Homo sapiens: one gene and its partners. The protein of the gene in region 4 interacts with the protein of the main gene of each other region in a pairwise test. Each region holds a gene or a part of one and is shown on either strand. Other genes may lie near its edges. The genes, in order: REN, NBPF19, ENSA and KCTD15.

Region 1 (6,305 bases), on a different chromosome or scaffold from region 4:
CCATATTGTTGCTGGGGGTGTTGTGGCTATGTGCCCCAGGTCCATCACATCCCTTGGTAGGATCCCTGTGGCTAAGGAACTCAAAGCCAAAAGACTTGTAGTCAATTAAACGTTTTAGGCCATTTGGTAAGGGAGGTGGCCAAGCATTCATTAACCCTTAAAACCTTTTAAGTAACATAAGAGCCAAAACCAAAAGCCAAATAGCAAAGGTACAAAACTGACCTTTCTATAAGTTCTATGTGTTGAGCCATCAGCTGTTTAGGCATCTGTGTACCTATATTTGGAGGATCTGAACTAATTTTACTCCTTAAAAGTAAAATTAGTACATCAAAAGGTGTTTTGTGCCCACCTCTTCCATGAGCGTCCTTGGGCCCAGAGGGATTTAATAGTTTTTTAAATCCTGGAGATATTAGGTACAGAGAGAAAGGTAAACCCAATTTCTATAAGCTATAAATAGCTCAAAAAGAAAAAAGGCGGGCCAGGCGCAGTGGCTCACGCCTGTAATCCCAGCACTTTGGGAGGCTGAGGCAGGCAGATCATGAGGTCAGGAGATCAAGACCATCTTTGCTAACATGGTGGAATCCCGTCTCTACTAAAAATACAAAAAATTAGCTGGGCGTGGTGGCACGTGCCTGTAGTCCCAGCTACTTGGGAGGCTGAGACAGGAGAATGGTGTGAACCCAGGAGGTGGAGCTTGCAGTGAGCCGAGATTGCGCCGCTGCACTCCAGCCTGGGTGACAGAGCAAGACTCCGTCTCAGAAAAAAAAAAAAGGCTTTCTTGACTCTGGAAAACAAAACATAAAGAATTAGCAACATTTCAAACTTAATTTAGGATTAGATTTTGAGGACATTTGTCAAAATGTTAAAGCCTCAAACCATTTGATCAAAACAGAACCGCCGGTCTTTGTAAAATAATAATTATTCATTTCACAAAAGTGATAATTAAAAGACTTTAATAGCAATACAGAAAGTTACATGAATATAAAGACTTAACCTTTCTAAAGCTCAGTTTTCCTAAGTAATCAAAAACCTGATAAAGATAACAAGAATGAGGAATTATCTTGAGAAAATGTAAAATCTTTCCTTTTATTTTTTGAGACAGGGTCTCACTCTGTCATCCAGGCTAAAGTGCAGTGGCACAATCATAGCTCACTACAGCCTTGAACTCCTGGACTCAAGTGATCCTCCCGCCTCAGCCTCCCCAGTAGCTAAGACTACAGGCACGCACCACCACACCCAGCTAATTTTTTTCAGAGATGGGGTCTTGCTATATTGCCCTGGCTGGTCTTGAACGAGCTTCAAGTGAGCGTGAGCCTCCTACCTCATCCTCCCAAAGCACTAGGATTACAGGCATGAGCCACTGTTTCCCAGCCTAAAATAATTGTTTCTTAGGCCAGCTACCAAAAACGCAAAGAAAAACTTTCTGTAGTGTGATTGCTTCTTCTTATGGGAAGCCCATTTAGATAACCTGTAAGTCAAACCTGATGAAAACAATACTTGAATGTAATCAGACACAGAAAGACTGTTCAAGGCTATGAGTAGCTGAGTCCAAGCTCGTATCACTTGCCACACAACAGCCAATAAGTCTAGAGACAAGGTATTGTGGCAAGGAAAGCTACCTTATTCAGAGAACCAGAAAACCAAGAAGATGGTGGACCAGCATCATAAAGAACCATCTGAAGTCAGCATGAACGTTAGGCTCTTCTTTATGTTAAGGGAAGGGGAAGAAGAAGGGGATTGGGATCAAGAGGTGACTGATGACCACAGACACCTGGGTGCCAGCAAGGGTCTGAGGACGTTGTAAAACTTCTTTTTTCTAGGTCAGGTCACAATGTTCCTATACATCTTTAACATAACATTGTTATTTGTCTGTATATTTCCTTATCTCCTTGGGGGTTAGTTTGGGGAAAGGAACTGTTACCATTTTTTTTAAAGTTGAACTGCAAGCTAAACTCCTATAATTAGCTGGTCTATGTACAGAGCTAAGCAGAAGCTTTTAGCCTAAAGGATAATACCCCTGGGGGTCAGAGGCAAAATGGAGTCAGTCATGCTAAGTCTCCCTCCACTCTCTTTCTTTTTTGAGATGGAATTTCACTCTTATTGCCCAGGCCGGAGTGCAGTGGCATGATCTCAGCTCACTGCAACCTCCGCCTCCTGGGTTCAAGCAATTCTCTTGCCTCAGCCTCCTGAGTAGCTGAGATTACAGGTGTCCATCACCACACCCAGCTAATTTTTGTAGTTTAGTGGAGATGGGGTTTCACCATTGTTGGTCAGGCTGGTCTGGAACTCCTGACCTCAGGTGATCTACCCACCTTGGCCTCCCAAAGTGCTGGGACAGGTGTGAGCCACCATGCCTGGCCCCTCTACTCTTATAATTAAACCAGCTGTTGCTTTTCCTGCCAAGAAACCAGTCATGAAGATTCACCCATGTTCTAGATGGGAAAACTGGGCTGTAGCCTGGGAGAGGCCAGTCAGGGACAAAGCCAAAGTTAATATAGAGAATGGAGCTTCCAGGGTATAGGGGTTGGGTCTGGGCTAGGGAGCTGGAAACCTAGGTTTTACGCTTGTCCCAGTTTTGATGTTAGCCCTGAGCAGTGCTGTTTCTCATCAGCCTCTGCCTGCTCCAGGGGTCACAGGGCCAAGCCAGATAGAGGGCTGCTAGCGTCACTGGACACAAGATTGCTTTCCCACAGCTGTCCTTCCTCCAGCCCCTCTGCTCCCCATCCGGAAACCTGGGTACCCTTCACCCACCTAGCTCTGTCCCGCAGTGAGATTTATTGCTGACTGCCCTGCCATCTACCCCAGGGTAATAAATCAGGGCAGAGCAGAATTGCAATCACCCCATGCATGGAGTGTATAAAAGGGGAAGGGCTAAGGGAGCCACAGAACCTCAGTGGATCTCAGAGAGAGCCCCAGACTGAGGGAAGCATGGATGGATGGAGAAGGATGCCTCGCTGGGGACTGCTGCTGCTGCTCTGGGGCTCCTGTACCTTTGGTCTCCCGACAGACACCACCACCTTTAAACGGTAATTGGTAACTCAGGCAGAGAAGGGGTGGGAGGGGTGCAGGGTTCCCACCTTCCCAACACCCTGGCTTTTCCACATGCGGTGTCATTCAGTCCTTACGATCAGCTGGACAGGGAAGTATGGACCTGTTCAGAGAGGTCAAGTGACTTGCCCAATAAATGACACTAGTAGTCAGGTCTAGAAGCTGTGACTTTTGCTTCCTGCCCAGAGCACCATGCTAACTAAGCACTGTAGAGAACTCAGAAGTATTAGGACATGCCCCTTGCACTTGAGGAGCTCACAGCCTGAATATTAAGAAGGGCATGGGTGGTTGGGCGCGGTGGCTCCTGCCTGTAATCCCAGCACTTTGGGAGGCTGAGACGGATCACTTGAGGTCAGGAGTTTGAGACCAGCCTGGCCAACATGGGGAAACCCCATCTCTACTAAAAATACAAAAATTAGCCGGGCATGGTGGCAGGCACTTGTAATCCCCAGCTACTCGGGAAGCTGAGGCAGGAGAATCGTTTGAGCCCGGAAGGTGGAGATTGCTGAGCCAAGATCGTGCCACTGCACTCCAGCCTGAGTGACAGAACAAGACTCCATCTCAAAAAAAAAAAAGACGGGGGTCGGGGCATGGGTACAGTTAACTGTACCAGGGAAGCAGCTTGATATCGTGGTTAAATGCAAGGCTTATAGAGTTAGATTGCCTTCATTTAAATTTTGCTTCACTAGCAGAACAAACTAGGTCTGGAATCATGGGCAAGTTATTTAACCTCTCCAAGTCTCAGTTTATCATTTTAAACAGGTATGATAATAACAGTACCTACTTGATGGGGCTGCTTTGGGGATTTTAGGAGATAAGGCATAGAAAGCTGGGCACGTTGTAAGAGCCCAGCTACTGTTAGTACTACAGGATAGATTCTTACAAATATCAAAAGCAAGGTTTGGCCGGGAGCAGTGGCTCACGCCTATAATCCCAACACTTTGGGAGGCCGAGGGGGGCAGATCACCCGAGGTCAGGAGTTCAAGACCAGCCTGACCAACATGGAGAAACCCTGTCTCTACTAAAAATACAAAATTAGCCGGGCGTGGTGGCACATGCCTGTAATTCCAGCTACTTGGGAGGCTGAGGCAGGAGAATCGCTTGAACCTGGGAGGCTGAGGTTGCAGTGAGCCGACATAGCGCCATTGCACTCCAGCCTGGTCAACAAGAGCAAAACTCAGTCTAAAAAAAAAAAAGAAAGAAAAAAACAAGGCTTTAGGTAGCCCACAATTAGAAGGAGAAAACCTTAGCATCCCCTAGGTGCCAGGCCTTGTGGGAACAAGTGATTCATTAAGACTGTAGAAGGAAGCTGGGCACGCGGCTCATGCTTGTAATTCCAGCACTTTGAGAGGCTGAGGTGGGCAGATCGCTTGAGCTCACGAGTTCAAGACCAGCCTAGGCAACATGGTGAAACCTTGTCTGTACAAATACAAAAATTAGCTAGGTGTGGTGGTGCAAATCTGTAGTCCCAGCTACTCGGGAGGCTGAGGTGGGAGCATCACTTCAGCCTGGGAGGTGGAGGCTGCAGTGAGCAGAGACTGACCCACTGTGCTCTAGCCTGGGTGATAGAGCCAGACCTTATGTAAAAAAAAAAAAAAAAAAAAAAAAGACTGAAGAAGGGGAAGAGACAGCATTTGAGAAAAGGCCTCACAGAGAAAGGGGTTTTCAATCTGGGGACAGCAGATATGACCAGCAGTCCTGAAGGTAGGGAGGCACACTTTAATAATGGTAATAGTTGCTAAGCCTATAAAATGCTTAGGGTGTCACAGGATCTTTTCACATGTCTCATCTCAAGTCATGCCCCCAACAACTCAGCATTCCCACTTTGCAGATGAGGACACTGAGGCTCAGGGAGGTGATATGTAAGAGGCTAAGCCTCAACACACACTGGGCCTTTTGCTTCCGAAACTGCTTTCCCTTGCTCTGAGGCTCTCGGAGAGTAATTGCTGGGTTGTGAGCACTGGGTAAGAGGATGGGTGCTTCAAAGCAGCTGCACTCCAGGATAAAGGTAGAGGAAAGTAAAAACATCTTCCCCTGCTGTTATCCAAAAGAGAAAAAGAATGGAATTGGGCAAGGGGTGGAGGGGGAATCCAGCTTTTGAAACAGTATTATAGGAATTTTGCTACCCGCTATGTGCAGAGCATCATGCGAGGCACTTGGGACAGCTGAATGAATGAGCTCCATTCTCAAGGTGAACATGTACATATACACACCTACAATTTACATTTATTGAGCAGTGGTCGCATGGTTTCATCTGCACAGTGACTCTGAGGTAGGTACTACCATTAGGCCCATTGTTAGAGAGGGGTTAATGGAGACTTAGAAGAGGCCCAGAGAGGTTAGGTAGCTTTCTCAGAATCACATAAGTGGTAAGGGGATTCAGGCATGCCCCCTGCAACCACTGTCTTCACCACCGTACGGCACCAGTTCCACAAGCTGTACAGTGTGGGCTGTGAGACCCAAGGAAAAACAGAGCTGAGGCCCACGGGAAGGTGAGGCCGGTGTGGGCTGGAGGCCTTGGGGTAAGCTTCCTGGAGGTGGGGGTACATGTTGGGCCTTGGAGGACTAAAGAACTGGGGGGAAAAGGAAGGGAAGAAGGAAAGGATTTTCTGAAAAGGAAATGGCAAGAAGTAAAGGTCCAAAGCATAGGCTGTTGTGAGTAAACAGTGGGAAATGCAACCTCTTTGGGGCCAAACCTCTGACCCTCCACGTTCCCAGCTGTGAAGTGGGAGTAATAAAATCATCCACCTTATGAGAGCAAATAAAATAATGATTGTGAAAATATTTTGGTAACAGTAACCTGTGATAGGAAGATAACAAATCATTTCTGTTACAATACCATGCTGATAGGCATAAAAGTTGCATTCATGTTCATGGGCAAAATGGGGGTAAGTAGAATGCATGGGACGCAAGAAGGATGTAGGAAGGAAAGGGTAGTGTGAGTATAGGAGGACTAGCCACTGAGAAGAAAGTAGAAGAAAGAGGGAATCTTTGTGTGTATGGGAAAGTCTATTGCAGAGTCAACTTGGGCTTCCATCCTGGGACCTTCCCGTGAACAGCTAGAGACATCTTCCTCTGGGCTTTGGCAGCCTTTATGTCGGGACCCAGGGGACCCTATATGGGAAATAGGGCCAGACACATGCTCTGAATCCCTGCTTCAACATTTCTGAGTCACCTTTGTCCCTGTGAGCCTTCATTTTTCTCATCTATAAAATGGATGACAGCTAGCTTGTTGGTGTGATTTCAGTAGCGGCTCA
Region 2 (5,791 bases), on a different chromosome or scaffold from region 4:
ACAACCATGAACAATCTGAGTATTTGATGAGACAGGGCTAAATATTGCAGTTTTTCTCCTAGAAATCATTTGAGGGTATTTGCTTTAAATTGATTGGAAAAATATGGCATAACTGTTTGCACAAACTTGGGACAAATGATATTGGGATAACGATCTACTAGAATAGGGACATTTTACCCACAGTTTCTGGGAGAAAAACCGAGGAATTTCTATCATGACCAGCCTTCAGGCCTCCTGAAATATATCTCTCACAGTGTCCTATTCTTATGCTGAGGAGCCTGAGGTCCCTGTGTGAGGATTAGACAGTGGATTGTTATGTGTGTAGGGGAATCAGCTTAATGTGTCTGTCCATGTCTGAATTTATTGCAGAAATTGAAAAGAAGGGGAAGGGGAAGAAAAGAAGGGGAAGAAGATCAAAGAAGGAAAGAAGAAGGGGAAGAAAAGAAGGGGAAGAAGATCAAAACCCACCATGCCCCAGGTGACTTTCAGCAATTGTGGATGCTTAATTCTGTGTTAACACCTGGAGGCAACAGATTCAGGGAAACCAGAGTGTGTTTGATGTCATGTTTTCAACGAAGGCTGAATTACTCCTACTGTCATTGCTGTTGGTTTTCATTGCAGTAGATGTTTAGGTTTCCATTTCTTCCTCCCCTTATCATTTCCTAACGTACCATAGGTTGACCATACTTCAAAAGCTGTACTCTCATGGCCACTGCATCGAATTTTGAGCATATTTTATGGAAAACTATTGAGCTCACTCTTTTCATGATCACAGTTTGCTGTGTGTCATGAGGGCACTAACTCAGAGTGTCCTTTTACTCCCTTACCAGTATGTCACCTGGCCAATTCACTAGGTCACTTTCTCTCTGTCTCTGTCTCTGTCTCTCTCTCTGTCTCTGTCTCTCTCTCTCTCTCTCTCTGTCTTTCTCTTTCATTGTTTTCTACCTGGCCCTGTTCTATCCCAACATAAAGGCAATAATTTGTTACCTCATTAATGGATCTGTCCTTTTTCTTTTCAAACTCTTCCTTAACGTTAGCCATGAAATCTAGCTGGGGCTGTGCGGTTTCTGATTCCCCCTGGCTTATTCTTTACTTTTTCCCACTTTTCCAGGCTCAGCAGGGAGCTGCTGGATGAGAAAGGGCCTGAAGTCTTGCAGGACTCACTGGATAGATGTTATTCAACTCCTTCAGGTTGTCTTGAACTGACTGACTCATGCCAGCCCTACAGAAGTGCCTTTTACATATTGGAGCAACAGTGTGTTGGCTTGGCTGTTGACATGGATGGTGAGTACCTTTCTATGAAGGTGATAAGGATCCACTGAGTCTTCTGGTTAGGGTCATATTCCTACTGCAAGTGGCCCTTACTGAGCTGAGAGATGTCATTGCCACAGGGAGGACCTATAGGCACATGTAGGTTGAATGAAACTCTAGTTCCACTTGGCAGCCCAGACAAGGGATGGGTCAGTGAGCAAGGCTCTCTTCCTAGTCTCAGGCCATGCCTGTGGCGCCCTAATCCTACTCTCATGACACTGGACCTGGGCAGATGTGACAAATTCACGCAACTCTGATTTTGTCTCAATTTTGTAGATCTTGTAGATTTCATCCTTCACTCTAATTTCAGCGTCTAAAATCCTCGCTACCATGAACAATCTGAGTATTTGATGAGACAGGGCTGAATAGTGCAGTTTTTCTCCTAGCAACCATTTGGGGGTATTTGCTTTAAATCGATTGGAAAAATATGGCATAACCATTTGCACAAACTTGGGACAAATGATATTGGGATAACGATCTACCAGAATAGGGAATTTTACCCACAGTTTCTGGGACAAAAACCAAGGAATCTCTATGGTGATCAGCCTTCAGGCCTCCTGAAGAATATCTCTCACAGTGTCCTATTCTCATGCTGAGGAGCCTGAAGTCTCTGTGTGAGGATTAGACAGTGGATTGTTATGTGTGTAGGAGAACCAGCTTCATATATCTGTCCATGTCTGAACTTATTGCAGAAATTGAAAAGTACCAAGAAGTGGAAGAAGACCAAGACCCATCATGCCCCAGGTAACTTTGAGCAATTATGGATGCTTAATTCTGTGTTGACACCTGGAGATGCCAGGTCCAGGGAAAACAAGAGTGTGTTCAATTTCATGTTTTCAACGAAGGTTGAATTACTCCTACTGACATGGCTGTTGGTTTTCATTGCAGTAGATGTTTAGGTTTCCATTTCTTCCTCCCCTTATCATTTACTAACTTACTATAGGTTGACCATACCTCAAAGGCTGTATGGCAACTGCATGGAATCTTGAGCAAGTTTATGGAAAATTATTGAGCCCACTCTTTTCATGATCACTGTTCGCTGTGTGTCCCGAGGGCACTAACTCAGAGTGTCCTTTGACCCCTTCATCAGTGTGTCACCCGGCCAACTCGCTGAGCTCACTTTCTCCTCTCTCTCTCTCTCTCTCTCTCCCTCTCCCTGTCTTTCTCTTTCATTCTTCTCTACCTGGCCCTGGTCTATCCCAACATAAAGGCAATAATTCATTACCTCATTAATGGATCTGTCCTTTTTCTTTTTAAACAGTTCCTTATGTTAGCCATGAAATCTAGCTGGGGCTGTGTGGTTTCTGATTCCCCCTGGCTTATTCTTTACTTTTTCCTACTTTTCCAGGCTCAGCAGGGAGCTGCTGGATGAGAAAGAGCCTGAAGTCTTGCAGGACTCACTGGATAGATGTTATTCGATTCCTTCAGGTTATCTTGAACTGCCTGACTTAGGCCAGCCCTACAGCAGTGCTGTTTACTCATTGGAGGAACAGTACCTTGGCTTGGCTCTTGACGTGGACAGTGAGTACCTTACTATGAAGGTGATAAGCCTCCACCTGGTCTTCCAGATAGGGGTGATATTCCTGTTCCAAGTGGCCCTTACTGACCCGAGAGATGTCATTGCCGCAGGCAGGACCTGTGGGCGCATATAGGTTGTAATGAAACTGTAGTCTCAGTTGGAAGCCTAGACATGAAATGGGTCAGTGAGCAAGGCTCTATTCCTAGTCTCCAGCCATGCCTGTGGCAACCTGAGCCCGCTCTCAGCACATTGGACCCAGGCAGATGCAAAAAATTCACAGAACTATGATTTGGACTCAAGGGTTTGTAGATTTCCTCCTTCATTCTAATTTCAGTGTCTAAAATTCTTGCATCCATGAACGAGCTGGGCATTTGATGAGACAGGGCTGAATACTGCAGTTTTCCTCCTAGAAATCATCTGGGGCATTTTCTTTGAACTGATGGGAACAATAAGGCATAACTGTTTGCACAAACTTGGGATAAGTGATTTTGGGATAACGATCTACCAGAATGGGGATATTTCACCCTTGGTTCTGAGATGCAAACCAAAGAATATCATGACCAGCTTTCAGGCCTCCTGAAGTATATCTCTCACATTGTCCTGTTCTCATGCTGAGGAGCCTGAGATCCCTGTGTGGGGATTAGACAGTGGACTGTTATGGGTGTAGGTGAATTGGCTTATTTTGTCTGTCCCTGTCTGAATGTATTGCAGGAATTAAAAAGGACCAAGAAGAGGAAGAAGACCAAGACCCACCATGCCCCAGGTAACTGAGCAATTGTGAACAGCTACTTCTGTGTTGACATCTGGAGACTCCTGGTTCAGGGAAAACAGAGCGGGCTGACATTATCGATTACATCTTTTCAAGCAAGCCTGAATTATTCCTACTAACATTGCTGTTGGTTTTCATTGCAGTAGATATTTAGGTTTCCATTTCTTCCTCCCCTTATCATTTACTAACCTACTGTAGGTGGACCAGACTTCAAAAACTGTATTCTCATGGCGACTGCATGGAAACTTGAGCACATTTTATGGAAAATTATTGAGCACAGTCTTTTCATGATCACTGTATGCTGTGTGTCCTGAGGGCACTAACTCAGAGTGTCCTGTTACTCCCTCATCAGTGTGTCACCTGGACAATTCACTGAGCTCGTTCTCTCTCTCTCTCTCTGTGTGTGTGTGTGTGTGTGTGTGCGTGTGTGTGTGTGTGTGTGTGTGTCCATCTGTCTTTCTCTTTCATTCTTTTCCATTTGGCCCTGTTCTGTCCCAACATGAAGGCAATAATTTGTTACCTCATTAATGGATCTATCCTTTTACTTTCTTAACCACTTCCCTATGCTACCCATGAAACCTAGTTGGGGCTCTGTTGTGTGTGATTTCCCCTGGCTTATTCTTTACTTTTTCCTCCTTTTCCAGGCTCAGCAGGGAGCTGGTGGAGGTAGTAGAGCCTGAAGTCTTGCAGGACTCACTGGATAGATGTTATTCAACTCCTTCCAGTTGTCTTGAACAGCCTGACTCCTGCCAGCCCTATGGAAGTTCCTTTTATGCATTGGAGGAAAAACATGTTGGCTTTTCTCTTGACGTGGGAGGTGAGTACCTTTCTATGAAGGTGATAAGCATCCACTGAGTCTTCCATATAAAGATCATATTCCTGCTCCAAGTGGCCATTACTGAGCTGAGAGATGTCGTTGCCGCAGTGAGGACCTATAGGCACATGTAGGTTGAATGAAACTCTAGTTCTACCTGGAAGCCCAGACAAGGGATGGGTCAGTGAGCAAGACTCTCTTCCTAGTCTCAGGCCATACCTGTGGCGCCCTGATCCTATTCTCATGACATTGGACCTGGGCAGATGTGACAAATTCAGAGAACTATGATTTTGACTCAAGGGTTTGTAGATTTCCTTTTTCACTCTAATTTCAGTGTCTAAAGTCCTCACAACCATGAACAATCTGAGTATTTGATGAGACAGGGCTAAATATTGCAGTTTTTCTCCTAGAAATCATTTGAGGGTATTTGCTTTAAATTGATTGGAAAAATATGGCATAACTGTTTGCACAAACTTGGGACAAATGATATTGGGATAACGATCTACTAGAATAGGGACATTTTACCCACAGTTTCTGGGAGAAAAACCGAGGAATTTCTATCATGACCAGCCTTCAGGCCTCCTGAAATATATCTCTCACAGTGTCCTATTCTTATGCTGAGGAGCCTGAGGTCCCTGTGTGAGGATTAGACAGTGGATTGTTATGTGTGTAGGGGAATCAGCTTAATGTGTCTGTCCATGTCTGAATTTATTGCAGAAATTGAAAAGAAGGGGAAGGGGAAGAAAAGAAGGGGAAGAAGATCAAAGAAGGAAAGAAGAAGGGGAAGAAAAGAAGGGGAAGAAGATCAAAACCCACCATGCCCCAGGTGACTTTCAGCAATTGTGGATGCTTAATTCTGTGTTAACACCTGGAGGCAACAGATTCAGGGAAACCAGAGTGTGTTTGATGTCATGTTTTCAACGAAGGCTGAATTACTCCTACTGTCATTGCTGTTGGTTTTCATTGCAGTAGATGTTTAGGTTTCCATTTCTTCCTCCCCTTATCATTTCCTAACGTACCATAGGTTGACCATACTTCAAAAGCTGTACTCTCATGGCCACTGCATCGAATTTTGAGCATATTTTATGGAAAACTATTGAGCTCACTCTTTTCATGATCACAGTTTGCTGTGTGTCATGAGGGCACTAACTCAGAGTGTCCTTTTACTCCCTTACCAGTATGTCACCTGGCCAATTCACTAGGTCACTTTCTCTCTGTCTCTGTCTCTGTCTCTCTCTCTGTCTCTGTCTCTCTCTCTCTCTCTCTCTGTCTTTCTCTTTCATTGTTTTCTACCTGGCCCTGTTCTATCCCAACATAAAGGCAATAATTTGTTACCTCATTAATGGATCTGTCCTTTTTCTTTTCAAACTCTTCCTTA
Region 3 (4,785 bases), on a different chromosome or scaffold from region 4:
ATGTTTCCATTATGGCAGGTTTAGAGAATCCTTAAAAAGAAAAATTGACTTGCTTGCCTAAAACTACAGTGCCCCCTTAGCCTCCATTACTTAGTATCTCTTACAGTTTGCTCTGGCTCTCAAATAATATAAAGATTGATGAACATTATTCACAGAAAATGGGCACCTTCTCTCTCTCTTCCAGCATGTTGCTTTTGAAAGTATCATGGGATAGTGGGACGAGCACTGGTTTAGGAGTCAAGATATCTGGGTTCTCACTCTACTCAGTCCCAGCAGAGCTGTTGTATAACCTTGATTAAGTCATTTAGCCTCTCTGGATTTCTATTTCCTCATCTGTAAAATAGAGTTAAATGTATGTAAGATTGATTCTGATTCTGAAGTCTTAACTGCCAGCAGAAAAACTCCATACTGTTCATTGTAAAACTAAAAGTGAGGAAGGCTCGTGGGTGGTGAACCTCTGCTCTGTAATACTGGGAAAGTACTACAGAGGGGAACCATTTGAGGGATACATGAGGAGAGAGTAAATTGAGGTTTGGGGATTATAAATTCAGGCAAGAGAACCTTATAGATATCACAGTCTTGAGGGTCAAAAAAAAATACTTAGGAAGCTAGCCATGGAAGCTTCTTGCCTCTGACCCAGCCCACTTTCCCAGCCTACCTCTGGGCCTTAGCTGCTAAAAAGCTTCTCTGGCAGCGGAGCTGCAGGCCTGAGGAAACATGCTCAGTCATGCACATGTGTTGACCCATGTTTCAGATGCAGTCTGATGCCAGGTATATTGTTAGGGAAAGAGGAAGAAGGGTAAACTGAGCTAGCCCCTGGGGCTGAGTACTCCTGCAGGGCTGGAGGAACAGGTTCTTAGAAGATGATTCACCTTGGAGGAAGCTGGGGAAAGTGGTTAGGGAGGGAGAGGAGGAAGACTGAGAAATCTCTGCATCCCCAGAACTCAGCAACCCAGCTCTTTTATCATGAGGAGAGGTAGCCATGCTGACTCATGAACAGGTGGAGGAAAGGGGTTGCAGGTGACCAGCATCTTCAATCTAGTTACCACCAGCTTGGCTAGAATTTTATTGAACGCAACTTGCTAGTTATGACAGAGAGGACCAGGGTGAGAACTAATGCTCAAGAGAGCAAGATTCTGTAATCCTCTTGCCCTCTCACATCACAAATTCTGATATGCCAAACATTTGGCCCAATGAGAATGACTGATAGACTTGCTGATGTGCATGTGGGGGGATGAGGTGTGTATATGCCTTTCTCCTGACTGGCCATTCAGTGTTCAGGCTGTCATTCAAATTGGATAGGAGAAAGTTGGTGAGGAAGGAATGGAGAGAGCAGGATCCCTGGACTCCCTGGTCCCCAAACTCCTTGACTGTCACTTGTAATTGTATATAATTTTTGTGTTTCTTGCTCCATTTCCTCATGCTGTCATCCTTAAAGTCCATCTGGGAAGGGGAAAATGCTGAACACCATTGTATAGTTTCTTCAACTGTCCCAGCCATGTTGTACATAGATATGTCATGTTATTATATATATAAATATATATATAATTTTGTACGTTTTCTTCATCTCCGATCTTCTCAAATTCTGTACTTTTTTTCTTTTCTGTCTGAGCTGCCTTCTCTATCATTCAGCTTGAGTCCTCAAGACTACTGGTCACAATGAGTCTGATTTTTAGGAAGGAATAGGAGGAGCAGGGAAATCAGAAAAACTGTTGGTCTCACTCTGTCTCTCTACCTGGTCATCTTCAAGGCTAAGAAAACAAACAAGCTACATTCTGTATTTGCCAGTTTCCACAGCATGAAGTACATAGCTTCCTTAGCAAGGAGTGGTCATTCCAAAATCCAAATGCAAATTGCTTTGATTAAACCTAGATTATTAAATCCATTCAGAACAGCATGTGTGTGGTCTGGTTCTGGCCTCCACACAGTCACCACCTCATCTCTGTGCTACCTCAGTCTTTGCAAGTAGCTGTGGCCATGCCTCTGAAACAGCCTGCTCTGAGCCAGGCAGCTTACCCACCTGGAAACCTCCAGTTATTTTGATCTTATCTAAAGAATTATTTTTCTATGTTTGTTATCCATGGATATCCCAGAAAGGCAGATAACGTTGTTTCGTGGATAGGAAAAGACTGAAATTCTATTTTTTGATTTTTTTTGCAACTCCCTTATGGATAGGATTGAGACATGCCAGGTAGCCTAATGGTTGTTAAATGTGGAGGAATCATGGGGTAGAGACTGGGTTGGAGTTCAGGGTTTTTTTCCCCTATTACTTGACAGTGTTGTTTTTTTTTTTTTTCTTCTGTGTTCGTCCGCAGTGGCCAAGTTGAATGATGCTGCCCGGGGCTCTGCCAGATCCTGAGACGCTTCCCCTCCCTGCCCCACCCGGGTCCTGTGCTGGCTCCTGCCCCTTCCTGCTTTTGCAGCCAGGGGTCAGGAGGTGGCTCGGGTGTGGGCTGGAGAGGCAGAAGCCCTTTCCTGTTGGTGTCCCAGCACATGGAGCCCCTTGGGCTGAGCACCAAGACCTTGAACCTTTTTTGTTTTACCTTTTTTCCAAATAACAGTTGGGAGAAATATCAATGAAATTCTGGGGGTGGGGGTGGGGTTGAAAGGGTGGGGTGGGAGATATGGAGGAGTATGAATTAGGGCTTGGAGTTGGTAAAAACATTCCTGACTATCCTTCTTAACCACGTGGCTGATGTGGGGTAGGTATGAGGGGAAGGAAGTGGAGTAGCCTAATGAAAAGGGGTTCTAGTTGAGCTCTGTAGATAAATGCCTTGTTTCAGTGTGGTTGGAGACCTGGTGTCAGATAAAAGAAACTCCATCCGCACAGACAGATGCAAACAGCTCCTCTAGTTCTGCAGAGCTAGTTGAGAACTCAACATTAATCATTTTAAAAAGTACTGTCCTTGAAATAGATTTGCTGTGGGAAGAAGGGCAGTGAGTGTGGGAGAAAGGAGCCGTGAGCGTGGGGAACCCCACAGAGCCCAAAGGACTTTTTCAGTATTCGAAATAAACAAAACAAAAACCCATGAAAAAACCCAACCCAGAAATATTCTGAAGCAGTTGGTGTGTTTTATTGGGGTTTGGGAGGGGGAAGAAAACAATACTGAAGACATTGTTAATGTGAGATGCGGCTGAGTTCCCCAATACCATCACTTAGGAAAGGGAGCAGGAATGTTGGCATAAACCTTGCCCATCCCTTTGTTTCTGTAACCAATGTAGAAGGTGCATCAACCTCAGTTTGTGGCTCACAAAATGAGGCATTTAAGATATTTGATCTAAATGGTTTCTTGACACCTAAGCCTAGTCCAGGTTTAGCAGAAAAGGAGGCCCAGTCTCCTTTTCCCTCTGTCTTCCATTCCTTTTCAAGTTCCCATGTTTGTGAGGGAGAAATGTGACAAACCAAAAGAAATATATTATTTCTTTGTAATAAGCCAAAAGAAACTCAAGTCTTTCTGCTGGTGGCCAGCAGGAGGCAGAGTGATTTCTTTCCTCATGATGTGCCAATCTGCATTGCTGGAAACCTGCTACTGAAAGAAGTTAAAAGCTGCCTGTGAATGTAACGTACAAAAGAAAGGTTACCAAAGGAGAAAAAACTCCAGCGGGTGTACGGTGGCTCACGCCTATAATTCCAGCACTTTGGGAGGCCAAGGTGGGTGGATCACTTGAGGTCAGGAGTTTGAGACCAGCCTAGCCAACATGGTGAAACCCCATCTCTACTAAAAATACAAAAATTAGCCGGGCGTGGCGGCACATGCCTATAATCCCACTTACTTGGGAGGCTGAGGTAGGAGAATCGCTTGAACCCAGGAGGCAGAGTTTGCAGTGAGCCGAGATTGTGCCATTGCACTCCAGCCTGGGCGACAGAGCGAGACTCCATCTAAAAAAAATAAATGAATAAAATAAAACAAGTACAAATTTAAACTAGAGACACAAGTTAATGGTGTTTATTGTGGTGGGGTTAGTGAGCCATCCCATGATTTCCTCCTGAGTATGTTATCCCTGGTTTGTGTTTGCCAGCTGGGGAATGAGGTGAGGTCTATGAGGCTGAATGTGGGATCATTCAATTTCTTTCTTTCTTTCTTTTTTTTTTTTTTTTTAGAGGCAGGATCTTGCTCAGTCACCCAGAATGGAGTGCAGGGTGCAAACACTCACTGTAGCCTCAACCTCCTGGGCTCAAGTAATCTTCCCATCTCAGCCTCCCAAGTAGCTGGGACTACAAGCACACACCACCACACCTGGCTAATTATTTTTTGTAGAGATGAGGATTCACCATGTTGTCCAGGTGAGTCTCAGAACACAGGCTTAAGCACTCTTCCCATCTCAGCCTCCCAAAGTGCTGGGATTACAGGCATAAGCCACTGCGCCTGGCTGAGAATATATTTTCATCCTTTCTTTTGTAGAGAGGATCTCGTTTTGTTGTGTAGGCTGCTCCTGAACTCCTGGCCTCAAGCAGTCTTTCCACCTCAGCCTCCCAAAGTGCAGGGATTACAGGTGTGAACCACTACACCCAGCAGTTAGTGCAATTTCATTTTAATACAAGTGAGGAAATTAAGGTATAGAGATAAGTTACTTGTAAAGTAGAAAAGCTAGTTAGCTGAAGAGCTTGAGTTAGTATCTTAGGCTTTTATATTATTTCTTCCCACTATTCCTGGCTTCCCTGGTCCTCAATTTTAATTTGTGGCCTTAAGAAGCCTGGGGTGCCAAAAATGTTTGGGGCTATCTGTATTTCATGTTACTCCTTAGCCTTTTTTTTTTCCTTTTAGTTCTTCACCACTGCACACT
Region 4 (5,791 bases):
CGGCAAGGCGTAAAGCCTGGGGCTTCCAACGGTAAGTTTCTGGCTTGCCATGAACATCAGGTTGTTCTTGGGAGGGAAAAGGGGCTAAGAACAGAGTGGAGCGGCTTCTGTGATGGAGGCTTGGTGTTCACGTCACTTTGGAATAGTGTCCTGGTATTGGGGAAAACATCTTGCAGTCCGCTTTGATAGAATTTCAGCCAGAATTCCTTCCTGTTCAGTTTATCCTCAGCGCGTCTTCCCTTCTGACTCCTCCCCCAGCAGAGCCTCCTAGGGCAGGATAATCCATTCCTGAGGTCTGTTTTGGTTCTCAGAACTCCTTGAGCTAAGTGACCTGGTTTTGTTTTTTTAAGCTTGTAGAACTCAGGAATGCCAAAAGCAGTGGATTCTGAGTCCACAGGCCCCAGTGAGGGTATATATTAAACATCACTGTCTGCCCATTGCAACCTCCCACCCCAGTTTTATGTCAGGAAACTTGCCCGGGCACTCAGGGAGAGCAACCTTGCTTACATTTGCAGGATTTGATTCTGGTTGGATTAAAATTGGATATTGAATTTCAAGGCACAAATTTTGATCCCAGAGTTTTAATGGGAAAAAGCAATCCCATGGGTCCCAAGAATTTCAAGTGGTTTCTCTCTTAAAGGTTAAACCTTCGAGAGACGTCCAGGGTAGGTTTGTGGAAGCCAGTGTCTGTGGATGTGTGAAGGGGGGTGACTATTCACGTGCAAATCTCCTCTTTCCTCCCTTTTGAGACAGCTGTAAATCAGTGAACGGGGCTGCAGAATTCTGCCCCTCCTGCATAGGGCCTGCAAAGCGCCCCTGGGTGTGGCTTCCAGGGACTGAGGGACAATCTTATTTCAGGTGACTACGGCACAGAGGAGAGTTACTGAGTGCCTCTGGGGAGGAGCAGTAGAAAGGGTCCATTGGCTGATCTGCTTGCTCTGTGCTTCCTCCTGGCCACCTGGCCATCTCCTGATGCCTCGGGGGTATGTGATCCTGAGGGGTCTGGAATGCATTAGGCATAGACAACACCACTCTGGGAGTCTGGGGAGAAACTGTGAGGTACAGACTAGGCAAACAAAGACAGGTTTTCTCTGCTATTGGGAGCCACAGAGAAGAGGCGGCTTCCCAAGTGACTTGCCCTCATCCATGTGCCTGGACTTCTGCTGAACGGCTTCCCTGTGTCTGGCCAGATGCAAGCTGTATCTTATCACCATGGGGATGGTATTAAGAGAGGTCCTAGGTTCCCTGGCCCATGGAGGGTGAGGGGTGCTTTCTGAGCCTTGGTCCACAAGGCTGTTGCAAGAGGAGACACGCTTGGTAACATGGCTTGAAAGGAAAATACCAGGAAAATCTGGTTTGTTCTGAAATATTTTGGGGCAATAATGGTGAGCATATGTTTCAGTGCTGTCATTAGCCGAATTAGCAGACATGGAGCTGCCCAGAAAACACATGTGTGAGTGTGACTGTGTGTGTGTGCATGTATGTGTGTGTCATCTGCTACAGCCTGGAGGCCTGCTTTGGGGTGTGGAGACAGATAGAGAGATAGTGGCGGTGGAGTCAATCAGGGAGGGCTGCATGGACCTCGCAGGGTCTCAGAGAGCATGCAGAAAGGACAATTCTAAGTGTCTTTGACCCCATGGTACATGACTAGGAGGAATAAGCCTTCTCTGGTTTTGTCGATGCCTCCCGCAGATACTCTGGGCAGGGATGGAAGCCTAGATGCCTCACCGCAAGGAGCGGCCGAGCGGGTCCTCGCTTCACACACACGGCAGCACCGGCACCGCGGTGAGCCTGCAGGGTGGGCTGGGTCCCTGCCGGGAGTTCCCTCTTTCCCTTCTTCCCCAGTGCCTGTTTACTGGCTGTCCTTCCTTGGGACCATGACACTCCAGGTGGCTGTTGACTGGCTGTAGGATTATGTATTTTTGAAACAAAAATGCTCTTAATTTGATGTGAAATTTACTACATGTATAAAACTCAACGCCTTAGGTGCTGAGGAAGTCACTAATTTAGAGGTGTCTCGTTACTGAGACAAACTTGCAAAAAACCCCTGAATCCCAATTCACAAATTGGTGATTCGTTTGTCAGGGGATATTTCACATCTAACACATAAGCCCACGACCTTTAATTAGAATTTTGCAGTTTGTTTTATGCCCCTGGAGGCTGACACCTTGAAAAATTTTTTTTCTTGATTTCTTATTGCTAATAAGCATCTTTCTTTTTCCCTCTGGTACTTTGAAGAAAATGATGCAAATACACTTAATTACAGTGGTGGCCATAATTTGTCAGCTGAATATATGATCAGGCACGGGCAGAAGTGATCTGATTAGATCTGTGATCACACTCTCAATAAAGGGAGTGCATGGCTGTGTTGTGGAGAAACTCTTGTGTTCCGCTTTGAAACTCTTGTGTTCCGCTTTGTTTCCATCTCTAGGAGGGAGGAAACATGTCCCGGCTGTCTCTCACCCGGTCGCCTGTGTCTCCCCTGGCTGCCCAGGGCATCCCCCTGCCAGCCCAGCTCACCAAGTCCAATGCACCTGTGCACATCGATGTGGGCGGCCACATGTACACCAGCAGCCTGGCCACGCTCACCAAGTACCCTGACTCCAGGTAAGAGTAAGCCCCTTGAAACATCAGGCATGTGTGGGTCAGGGCAGCATCTGTAATCTGCTGCCTAGGGGGTGGGGTCTCTCCCCACTGTCACTCCACCCACCAGGGTCTCCAGGGTGCACAAGCTGACACAGCCTGAGGGAGCTAGGGTTGGGGAGTCCAAGTCTGCCTGTTGAAAGCTGCTATGCACAGAGGCTTGTGACCCTGACTTGGCGGCATTGGTAGTGCAAGGTGGAGCTCCTGACCCACCTGCAGGGGACTAGGGCTTATTCAGAGCCAGCCCAGCCTGAGCCTGCCGGCAGCGGGCAGGGGAGTCTCACGTACCTTCAAGGTTCCTCTGGAGGGAGACTTAGGCCCGGCCCCTGCAGGGGGTCATTTGTGAGTGATACTGAGTAGGTAAGTCTTGGGGGCATGGGGGTGGGTATTTAATCCTATTTTCTATTCCACCCCTGGGAAATTCACAAGGGGAGGGAAGAGGAGCTGTGGTGAGCTGCAGTGTGCCATCTTTGTCATTTTCCGTGGCCACTGCTGGGCCCTAGAGGCTAGCAGCAGGCTTCCCTTGGAGCTGGTGCTGCAGTGACTAGCTAGGAATGAATCACATACCTCATCAGTGGATAAAGGGTCTCTGGCCAGGACCCTGGTTGGGGGCTCACAGGCACCCTCCATGCTGCTGAACTTATAGGCTGCCCAGGCCCTTGGGCCTGCGAGAGGTTTGGGGTGCTGGGTGCTGCCAGCTCTCCTGCTCTTCCTTGCAGGGTGTTTCTCTCCTGGGTGAGGGACCTGCTTTCCCCGTTGGCACGGCAGCAGGGCTGACCCGAGTAGGGTGGGTCTTGAGCAGCTTGCTCAGCCGAGGATGTTTGCTCCTGGCACAGAGAGGCGGTCATCGCTCCCCTGGGGCTGCTGAAGGCTGAGCGTGGGAGGGCCAAGGCTGTGGGCATCACCCCTGTGTTATGCATTTGAAATAACAGGAGGAGTTAATTAATCCCCCAGATACTGAGGGATCATCTCTGGGGAGCATACACGGCAGGCTGCATTGTCACCGGTGTGGTTCCTCAGAGCAGGGAGGATGGTAGTGCGCAGAGGTGGCTTTCCAAGCCTGTTGGGGCTGCAGGGGAGCCTGTGCAGGTGCAGGCATGGTCCCTTGAGGAGGAAAAACTGGAAATGGGTGCAGTGTCTAGTTCCAAATTTGGAGAGTCTAGGGTACAGATGGTGACTGGTGTTCCAGTACCCCAGGTGGACAGAGACTCAGCCTGGGGCCCTGTGGCCTTGGGGCTTGTGGGGTGGGGACAAGAGCCACGGGGCCAGGTCAGCAGTGTTGGCCTGTGTGCTCACTCACAGAGCCCTGTCTAGGATGGGAGATAGATTCTGCTTATTTAATTTCCATTTTGCCTTCTGCGGCATTTCTGAGTTGTTTGAGATAGATCATCCCTTAATCGGTTGACGACGTTTGTGAGTGAAATTCATAAAACCTTTGCCCACAACCCTCTCTGAAGAGTTTCCTGAAATCAGAGAGTTGCCTGTCTGGAGTAATCACAGCCCAGGCCCTGGGGGAGGCGGGTGGGAGAGGCTTCTCATTCTGGGCTCTTGGCTGCTGCCTGAGAGCAGGAGGGCAGGGGGCCATCTCCCCCCACCCAGCCCCACTGTGCTGCTCACCCATTGCTTTGTTCTGCTGTGGGATGTGCTCTCATGGGGAGCTAGGGCCCCTGTGGCCCTGTGATCTGGCACTTGGGACCCTCCTGGTGTGCCCAAGGGGTGGCAGTCTATGTTTATTCTTCCCCAGGGCTGGGGCTCAAGGTGAATCTGTTGTTCTGCCTGGATGGCCTCTGGCTGCTGTGGGGGTGCTCTGTAGGCCTGAAGCTTTGGACTAGAGGCCAGGGATGGCTGACCTGCAGGACAATCAGGGGACAGGAGGCCAGGGGGCCTGAGAAGTGGGTCAGGCAGCTGTGCTGGCAAGAGCCCCTCAGATCTCTCTTGTCCTTCCTGTAGTGGATTATTATAATATAAGCAGTTTTCTACCAATTCTGGAAAAAATCAATCTCACCTAGTGTCACTGATCTAGGAGACACCTGGAGATGGAGGACTAAGAGTGCTGTGGTCCTCAGGGGGTTTCTGGATGGTGAAGATGACCTGCCCTAGGCAGCATTGTAAAAGCTGGGACCTCTACCCTCGGCTCCCCTGAGAACTCTGCCTGAGCCTCTGGGTCTCGGCGGTTGGGGTGGCCTGGGTGCTGGAGAGTCTCGTGCTGGGTGACTCCTCTGGTCTGCCTAGGAGCAGTCACTGGTCCTCACCCGAGACAGCCAAGCACAGCCGGGGCTGGGAGTGGATTCCCTGGGCCGGCCCCCTTGCTGGTGTCCTGCCTGCTTGACCCCCGTTAGCTGCCGCCATCACAGCCACACTCTGACATCCATCCTGACTATGGGAAGCATCAAATGAAGATGGCCAGGAGCTTCAGAACTCTTAAAACCTGGTGCCTGAAACAGCCAGGAAATTGGAGCCAGAGCTTAAAAAAAAAAAGGAAATAAACGAGAAGACGAAGGCCATCCTGATGCTCCCCCTTGTGCACACAGGGCAGGTGGTTGGAGGCATCTTTTCTGCCCCTGAGGGTCCCACCTGCTGCAGCGTGAACTGGCCACCTCATTCCATGGAGGACTTCGGAAGCCGGCCCCTCAAACCCTGCATCCTCTCTCAGAGGGTGGCCTGGGCCATTTTCCACAGGGAACGTGGAGCCCCTGACAGAGCTGGGAACTCATACCTGCAGGGCTGAGAATGGCTGAGGGCTCCTCCATGGTGATTATCCTCACCTTTCCTCAACCTGCTCACGTCCTTGGCAGCCTCAGACGCTGAGGGCATGAAAGGCCTCTGTCCTGGGAGAGGCGGTACAGCTGCCGCTTGATCCAGGAGCCTATACTGAACCATGGAAAGATCTAGAATCAGCCTGTCCTGAAATAAGGCAGATGGAAAACCTTCTAAACTTGGACCGATGAGACAACCTAGAACCCATCCAGCCCTGGAATGTGGGTGCATCAGGAGTCTTCTAGACCAACAGGACCAGCTAGAGCCTCAGCCAGACCTGACGTCAGAAGGGTTGGGAACTCAGCCAGGCCTAGAATGCTGCCTGCTTACATGGACTTTGGAGCTCCACTGGGAAGGGTGGGGAGAGTTCCCAGGAGGCTGAGGGTTTGGA

Evidence for each region.
Region 1: the proteins of KCTD15 (region 4) and REN interact in a two-hybrid assay, tested with the Homo sapiens proteins (one large-scale study listed by BioGRID and IntAct).
Region 2: the proteins of KCTD15 (region 4) and NBPF19 interact in a two-hybrid assay, tested with the Homo sapiens proteins (one large-scale study listed by BioGRID).
Region 3: the proteins of KCTD15 (region 4) and ENSA interact in a two-hybrid assay, tested with the Homo sapiens proteins (one large-scale study listed by IntAct).

What each region holds. Positions count from the first base shown.
Region 1 is NC_000001.11:204,162,917-204,169,221, reverse strand, and holds the start of REN (renin preproprotein), read left to right. Parts: upstream 1-2,884; 5' UTR 2,885-2,928; coding exon 2,929-3,026; intron 3,027-6,305. UniProt on the Homo sapiens protein: Renin is a highly specific endopeptidase, whose only known function is to generate angiotensin I from angiotensinogen in the plasma, initiating a cascade of reactions that produce an elevation of blood pressure and increased sodium retention by the kidney.
Region 2 is NC_000001.11:149,501,175-149,506,965, forward strand, and holds part of NBPF19 (NBPF family member NBPF19), read left to right. Parts: intron 1-369; coding exon 370-478; intron 479-1,111; coding exon 1,112-1,284; intron 1,285-2,003; coding exon 2,004-2,055; intron 2,056-2,659; coding exon 2,660-2,832; intron 2,833-3,541; coding exon 3,542-3,593; intron 3,594-4,243; coding exon 4,244-4,416; intron 4,417-5,130; coding exon 5,131-5,239; intron 5,240-5,791.
Region 3 is NC_000001.11:150,620,390-150,625,174, reverse strand, and holds the end of ENSA (alpha-endosulfine), read left to right. Parts: exon of another isoform or gene 1-1,897; intron 1,898-2,315; coding exon 2,316-2,331; 3' UTR 2,332-3,050; downstream 3,051-4,785. UniProt on the Homo sapiens protein: Protein phosphatase inhibitor that specifically inhibits protein phosphatase 2A (PP2A) during mitosis.
Region 4 is NC_000019.10:33,798,736-33,804,526, forward strand, and holds part of KCTD15 (BTB/POZ domain-containing protein KCTD15), read left to right. Parts: coding exon of another isoform or gene 1-31; intron 32-858; coding exon of another isoform or gene 859-887; exon of another isoform or gene 888-983; intron 984-1,692; 5' UTR 1,693-1,719; coding exon 1,720-1,785; intron 1,786-2,431; coding exon 2,432-2,607; intron 2,608-5,791. UniProt on the Homo sapiens protein: During embryonic development, it is involved in neural crest formation. Inhibits AP2 transcriptional activity by interaction with its activation domain.